2 linked regions of the Homo sapiens genome follow. The protein of the gene in region 2 interacts with the protein of the main gene of each other region in a pairwise test. Each region holds a gene or a part of one and is shown on either strand. Other genes may lie near its edges.

Region 1 (3,751 bases), on a different chromosome or scaffold from region 2:
GAGTCAGTCTTACAGTGCCTCTCACCCACTGTCTTTAAGGAGAAAAGTAAAGCAGTCTGGTTTGGAAATGTATGTTATCTTTGAAATTTAAATAAGCCCAATATAGCTTTCTGAGACCCGGTTCCCTTTCGCTCCTCCCCAACTCTCTTGCCCCTGCCTTTCACTGTTCTCTTAGAAGTCCCCTGAACTGTGCCCCTGCCCATCTCTGGGCCTGTTTCTGGGGTCTCCTTGCTTGTATCCTCAACCTCAGAATCCAGTCCCTGGCCTTCACGGGCCCTCTGAAATGCTGTCTCTTACACAAAGCTTCTCTCCTGCTTCTTCAGGCCTGAAGCACTCATACCTGTCGGGAGGTGGCAAGTCGTCATCTCTCTGCCACCTCCCCCAACCCCCAGGATCCTGCAGTTCAGAACAGGTCCAAAGACTCAAATGGGCCTGCAGCTTTATTAGCAGAGTTCAGTGACTGCCAGCATTGGGTTAGATCTCTAAGCTTAAAACCCCCTTCTCAACTTAGTAAACAGTAGTGTCCCCATATCTGTGGGATGGAAAATTCCAGAAATAAACAATTGATAAGTTTTCCATTGCATGCTGTTCTGAGCAGCATGGCGAGATCTCTTGCTGTCCTGCTGTATGCCTTCTTCACCACAAGAAGGGTGAGGATAGGACAATAAGATATTTAGAGAGACACAGAGAGACCACATTCACATAACTTTTATTATAGTGTATTGTAAAATTGTTCTATTTTATTATTAGTTATTGATAATCTTTTACTGTGCCTCATTTATAAGTGGAGCATTGTCATAGGCATGAATGAATATTTAGGGAAAGACAGTATATATAGGGGTTCAGTACCATTGTGATTTCAGGCATCCACTGGGGGTCTGGGAACTGTCCCCTGCAGATCAAGGGGGACAACTGGAATGGTTATTTTTGTTGTTGTTGTTACATTTTTTGTTTTGAGATCCTTGTAGACTCACATGCAGTTGTAAGAAATAATGGAGACTCAGGCGTCCTTATGTATCCGCGTACCCTTTACCTTGTTGCCACCCAGGATAACACTTTACACAACTGTAGTACAGCATCTCAGCCGGGATGTTGACATGGATACGCTTCCATTTCCATCGCCATTGCGCAAGGCTGCCTCCTGCTGCCCTCTTGTAGCCACAGCCACTTCCCTCTCACCCCCACCCCCTCCTTAGCCTCTGGCAATCACTAATCTGTTCTTCATTTCTGGAATCTCCGAATGTTCTATGAATGGAATCATACAGTATGTAACCTTTTGAGACTGACTCTTCGCTCAGCGTTTTTCTCTGGAGATTCACCCAGGTTGCTGAACTGACCAATATTCATCTTATTGGTGAGGAGTATCCCGTGCTGTGCGTGCATCACAGTCCTTTCATCATTCACCTGTGGAGGGACACCTGGGTGGTTTCTAGTCTCTGGTTATTAATGAATAAAGCTGCAGTAAACATTGATGTGCAGGTTTCTGTGTGAACTAAGTCAGTTTTTCTGAAGCGAATGTTCAATGCTGTGTCATACAGTAGTTGCATATTCTTTCTTTTCTAAGAAACCACCAGCTCAATAACTAATGCTGGCGAGGATGTGGAGAAAAAGGAACGCTGGTGCACTGTTGGTGGGAATGTAAATTAGTACAACCACTATGGAGAACCGCTTGGAGGTTCCTCAGAAACCTAAGAATAGAGCTCCCGTCCAATCCAGCAGCCCCACTGTTTGGGTATATATTCAGAAGAAAGGAAATCCCTGTGTTGAAGAGATACCTGCACTCCCGTGTTTGTTGCAGCACTATTTACAATAACCAAGATTGGAGCAACCTATGTGTCCAGCAGCAGATGAATGGGTAAAGAAAATGTGGTGCATGTACACAGCGGAGTACTATTCAGCCATAAAAAGAATGAGATCCTGTCGTTTGCAGCAACGTGGATGGAACTGGAAGTCATTATGCTAAGTGAAATAAGCCAAGCACAGGAAGACAAGCATAGCATGTTTTCACTTATTTGTGGGATCTAAAAATCAAAACAGTTGCCAACTCATGGAGATAGAGAGTAAAAGGATGGTTACCAGAGACTGGAAAGGGTGGTGGGAGGCTGTGGGAGAGGTGGGGATGGTTAATGGGTATCAAGAAAATAGAATGAATAAGATCTAGTATTTCATAACACAACAGGGTGGCTGTAGTCAATAATAATTTAATTGTACATTTTAAAATAACTAGAGTATAATTGGATTGTTTGTAACACAAAAGGATAAATGCTTGAGGTGATGGATACCCCATTTACTCTGATGTAAGTATCATACATTGCATGTCTGTATCAAAATATCTCACGTGCCCCATATACACCTGCTGTGTACCCACAAAAATTTAAAAAGGAAAAAACTGTCAGCTGTTTCAGGAGTCTCTGTACACATTTTATATTCCCAGTAGCAGTGTGTAAAGGATCTAGTTTCTCCACATCATGGTCAATATTAGGCGTTGCCACTGTGTTGTATTTTCGCCATTCTGATAGATGTGTGGTAACCGCTCATTGTGGTTTGAATTTGTGTGGCCCTAATGACTAATGTTGTTGAGCACCTTCTTCTGTGCATATTTGCTATCTGTATATGTTTTTGTTGAAATGTCTGCTCTCTTTTTTTAAATTTTTTTCCCCTATTTTCTAATTTGAGTTGTTTGGGGTTTTTTTGGTTGTTGTTTTTGTGGGTTTTTTTTTTTTTTAACTGTTGAGATTTTAGTTTTTAAATTTATTCTAAATAGTACTCCTTTGTGGGACATAACAGTTTGTGAATTTTTTTTCAGTCTTTTTGCTTGTTTTTTCATCATAACAGAGTCTTTTTAGGGCAAATGGTTTTTATTTTGATAAAGTTCAATTTATCAATTTATCTTATGGATTGTGCTAACAACTCTTTACCTAGCCCTAGAGCCTAAAGATTTTTTTGTTTTCTAAATTATCTTAATGGATAACTTTTTTTTTTTTTTTTTTTACAAATCAACATTTTATGTAGTTCAGGTGTACAATTTAATGTGTTACTGTATTTTATTTTTATTTTTCGAGACAGGGTCTCACTGTTGCCCAGGGTGGAGTGCATTGGTGTGATCATGACTCACTGCAGCCTCAACTTCCTGAGCTCAAGCAATCTTCCTGGGTAGTTAGGACTACGAGTACACACCACCACACCCAGCGAAGTTTTAAAATTTTGTGACGGAGGTCTTGCAGTGTTGCCCAGGCCTGTCTTGAACTCCTGGGCTCAAGCAATCCTTCTGCCTCAGCCTCCCAAAGTGCCTGGATTACAAGCATGAGCCACCATGCCCAGCTCAACTTAATGTTTTATTATACATGTACATTGTGAAATAGTGACTACAATCAAGCTGATTAACACATTTATCACCTCACATAGTTTACGTGTGTGTGTGTTGAGAACACTTAAGATATATCCTCACAGCAAATTTCAGGTCTATGTTAAATGCCTCCTAGTCTTACATTTTTTATTGAAGTCCATGATCCATTTTGAGTTAGTTGTTTTTGTAAGGTGTGAGATCCTGTTTACGCTTTCTGTTTTAACTGGCTTTCTCTCACATGACTTTGGTGGTTGTGGAGGGGCACGGCCTTGTTGCTGTCAGGTGGGGGCGGAAGTCCAGGCTCTCTACTCAGCCTCCATCCACACCTGAGGATGGCCACTTCTTGCTCCTGCCGGGCAGGGCTCCTGGTGCAGGTTCCACTGACATCACAGCAGGGGCAGCCTC
Region 2 (3,751 bases):
GAAAGATTTTTAAAAAGAGTTAAGGTGTATATGGAAAGCATTTAGCACAGCACCTAGCACATAATAGGCATTCAGTAAAAGTTAGCTGTTTATTCATTGTTTCAGCGCTTACTTACTCAGCACCTGCTAAGTCTGAGTACTGTTCTAGGTATCAGCAGTGAAGGAAAGAAGACTTGGTCCCCAAATGTACTTTCTTTGGGGGAAGAGCTGGATAAATAGGCTTTGTGACTCTGTGTGCTGTGTTAGATGGTGGGAGGCACTGGAGAGAAAGAGCAGGACGGAGGGTCATGTCAGGAGGTTCAGAAGCCTTGCTGGCTGGGTGGGGTGACATTTGAGGAAAGGCCTAATGGGGTGGGCACGGCCATTGCAGAGCCTCTCAGGTGGGAGTTGGTGTTGTGTTTAGAGGACATCTGCCAGTGAGAAGCCAGTTGTGCAGAGAGGGAGTAAGGAGGAGTAGTGGGGAGGAAGCTGGAGAAGTGAGAGGGGCCAGATCCTGGAGGGCCTGGAGGTCATGGTGAGGACTTTGGCATTTACTGTAGTGAGATGGGAGCCACTGGGGGATTTGTAGCAGCAGAGTGCCAAGGTCCAAGGGTTATTTTGACAGGCCTCCTCTGGCTGATGTTTGGAGGATGGGCTACAGGGCAGGAGTGGGAGCAGGAGCCCAGGTGGGAAGTGATGGTGGTGGAATTGTCATGAGCTTGGGCCACTGTACGTGAAGCTGCCTGTCCAGTGCTCGCCCAGCCCATACCAGGCTCGTTTTCTGCCCCATTTTCTGAGACCCTGCTGAGGAGGGCATGCACTGGCTCCTGTGTCCAGTATGTCCTTCCATTCTCCTGACTTTGTGGGCTATTTTCAGTCTCCAGATGAAGAAACCAGTTCTTAGAAAGGTGAAGCCCCTGGCGCAGTTCCCCAGCAGGTGTTTCAGTGCTGTGGCAGGAAGGTTTTTTGATAGAAACAGCCTCAGGCCAGAGAAGTCGGCCTGAGCTGTGGATTCCTTGGGAGAAATGGGCTTTTTGCCTGCCTGCAGCCTCTGGTTTCGGCTGGAATTGGCCTTTCAAGGAGCAAAGTGTGGATCTCATCTCCTTGAGCACAGTCATGGGCAGTCAGAAGGCATCGGGGGCCCTCATGATGTCTGGGTGAAGAAAATCACTCAGCCCTTAATCAAACTTGGTCCAGGGCTGGGATCAGAAGAAGAAACCCCACTTCACACTTGACTGCTTGGAGTGAAGCACTTCGAAAGGAAGCTGCCTGGGAAGTCCCAGAAGGGAAGGGGCAGGGAGGGAAGGGGACAGGGTGAGAGCAGGTCTCACTCATCCCAATCCCAGCCAGGATTGGGTCAGGGCCCCCAGCGCTTACCTGCAGGCAAGGTGCTGCTCCACGACCTTCTCCAGCTGCTGCCGCTGCTGAATCTGTTTCCCTCCCTGAAACGTAGCCCTGTCTCTCAGCTGGCTTCCTGATCTGGGAAGGGTGGTGCCTGTCCCCTGTTCAGCTGACTCACCTTGGACTGGGATGGGCACAGGTGAGGGCTGTGGCTGGGTAAACAAGGCAGGTTGCCAGCCCAGAGGAGGCCTTTGGCCTTAGTCTGGATTTGGAGGTGGGATTAAGGCCCTCACAGCTGCTGTTCAGACGGTTATGAACCAAGACTTCTTGGCCTTTTCTTAAATAGCTCTAAATTTGGGTTGGACACCTAGTCCTGCTGATCGAGGCAGTTGGCTAGAGGGCGGTTTGTGATAGGTATCTAGGGGTCTAGGCCAGGATATTAAAAAGTGGTCATATCCTGTGACCCAGCATTTCTTCTAGGAATTTGTTACAGTGGAGTCACAGGGCCCATCCATCACTGCTGCTTCTAGTAAGGAAAATGTAGAAATCCCAAATGCCCATCTCTGTGGTCTGCTTGAATAAATCATTGTCTGTGGAAGATCACAGAGCTATTAAAGTCACTTAAGGAAGAAGGTATGAGGAAACATTTCTGAGATTCTAGTGAGATGTTGAAAAATCAATATTGTGAATCTCTTCTTGCATTTTGTTTTCATTTTTTGTAAAGTGGATGTGCGTTGAAAGCAGTCTAGGAGGACATACGCTAAAATGCTGAGTATCTCTGAATGGCAGCATTGAGGGTGAGGTTTTCAGTTTGTACTTTTGTGTGTTCCAAGGTGGTTTTTTTTTTTTTAAGTTAGCTTTTGCTCTGAATGCTCATGACTTTTGTAAGGGGGAAGCAATTAAGTTTGATTATTTTAATGGGAATTTAGAGTGGTTGTCTCTTGGGAGCAGACCTAAGGAGCTGTGTGCTGAGGTGGAGATTTTTTTTTTTATGGCACATTTTTGGTGTCTTAAATTTTGAAAAGTTTAAATGTACTACTTATTCCAAAAATAATTATATAAATTTGAACAGAAAAGGAGGAAGAATTTAGTTTAGATCCTGGTGGGTTTGGTTGGGTGAGGGTGCCTGTCGCACTGGGTGCCTGGGGAGGGACGAGGGACTCGTGTGCTGGGCAGTCCCATGAGGATTGACGCTGTACACACTCAGGGTGTGTCAGTATCTGGGCTGCTTCCTGGGCCAGGCAGGCCTACGTCACAGTTCCCATGACCCACCTGGCAGAGTTGCACTAGCCTTGGGTGTCAGATCTTGTGCCTGCCAATGAAGAGCTTACAGCCCAGAGTCCCACACAGGAAACACACAATAGGAATAATAACAAGAAAGACATTTGCCACTAATTCAGCACTTACTCCCAGAGAGCACAGAGATTCTACCCCTGGCACTTTAAAGGCATTATCTCAATGGCTTCTCATGCCATCCCTGCAGAGTAGGTGTGACTCACACCATTCCTCCAGGTGGGGACACTGAGGCACAGAGGCAAAGTTTCTCTCTCAAGTTAGCTGGAAAGTGGGCCAAGTTCATGTCTTCTCTTCTATGGGACATACTGTTTCAGAAAGCTGAGGTGTGGGGCAACCTCAGAGTAAGCTGTGTGGGCCTGAAGCTGAGGTAACGTGGGTGATGGACCCACCTTAGGTCAGGTGTCCAAGGCCAAAGCAAAGTGGAAAATAGAGATCCTAACTAAACCAAGCCACTCCTCCCCCACCTCACTTCATTCAGTCATGACCTGAAAGGGCCTTTATAGAAGAGGGAGGAGGAAGCAGGCCCTTCCAGGTAAGGGGCTTGCCTGTGGTCCCAGCATGTCAGCATGGAGCCCAGGTCCCCTAACTCCCACCTATTTAATACCTACAGGGACTCTCTTTCTATTCCCTCTTTGGATAGTTGCCACCCATCACTGACTTCCAGCCACCTGGAAATATCTTTCATTGGGCATGCCCTTGCTCGAACTCTTCAGTGGCTCCCTCCTGCTTCAGGGTCTGGGCTAAACTCCCAGGGCTGACATGGAGACCTCCACAGCCCACTCCCTTTATTACCTCCTCAGCACTCCCCCAGCACCTCTGCCTCAGCTGGACTGGGAGCCCCACCATTCCTGCCCCACTGCACACCCACTTCCTACCTGCCCTGACTCCATACCTTTGCCTGTCCTGCTGCTGCCCCTGGAACACCTTCTCCTGCCCCCACCCACCTAGCCACATCCACCACTGAGCTCCTCCAGGAAGCCTCTGGGATCCCCCACATCCATGTGGCCTCTCCCGCCTCTGACTCTGGATCAGACGCTCCTGTTCCATTCTTTAATAATCATCATCTTGTACTCATGTGTACCTTTTAGGCTACTAGTTAGACCCTAAGTTCCCTGAGGGCAGGGCCAAGTTATTA

Evidence for each region. The genes of interacting proteins can lie anywhere in the genome.
Region 1: the proteins of SDCBP2 (region 2) and LYAR interact in binary tests that used the Homo sapiens proteins (3 or more experiments, as listed by UniProt).

Annotation. Positions count from the first base shown.
Region 1 is NC_000004.12:4,269,509-4,273,259, reverse strand, and holds part of LYAR (cell growth-regulating nucleolar protein), read left to right. Parts: intron 1-3,751. UniProt on the Homo sapiens protein: Plays a role in the maintenance of the appropriate processing of 47S/45S pre-rRNA to 32S/30S pre-rRNAs and their subsequent processing to produce 18S and 28S rRNAs. Also acts at the level of transcription regulation.
Region 2 is NC_000020.11:1,327,729-1,331,479, forward strand, and holds the start of SDCBP2 (syntenin-2), read right to left. Parts: upstream 1,412-3,751; 5' UTR 1,357-1,411; intron 1-1,356.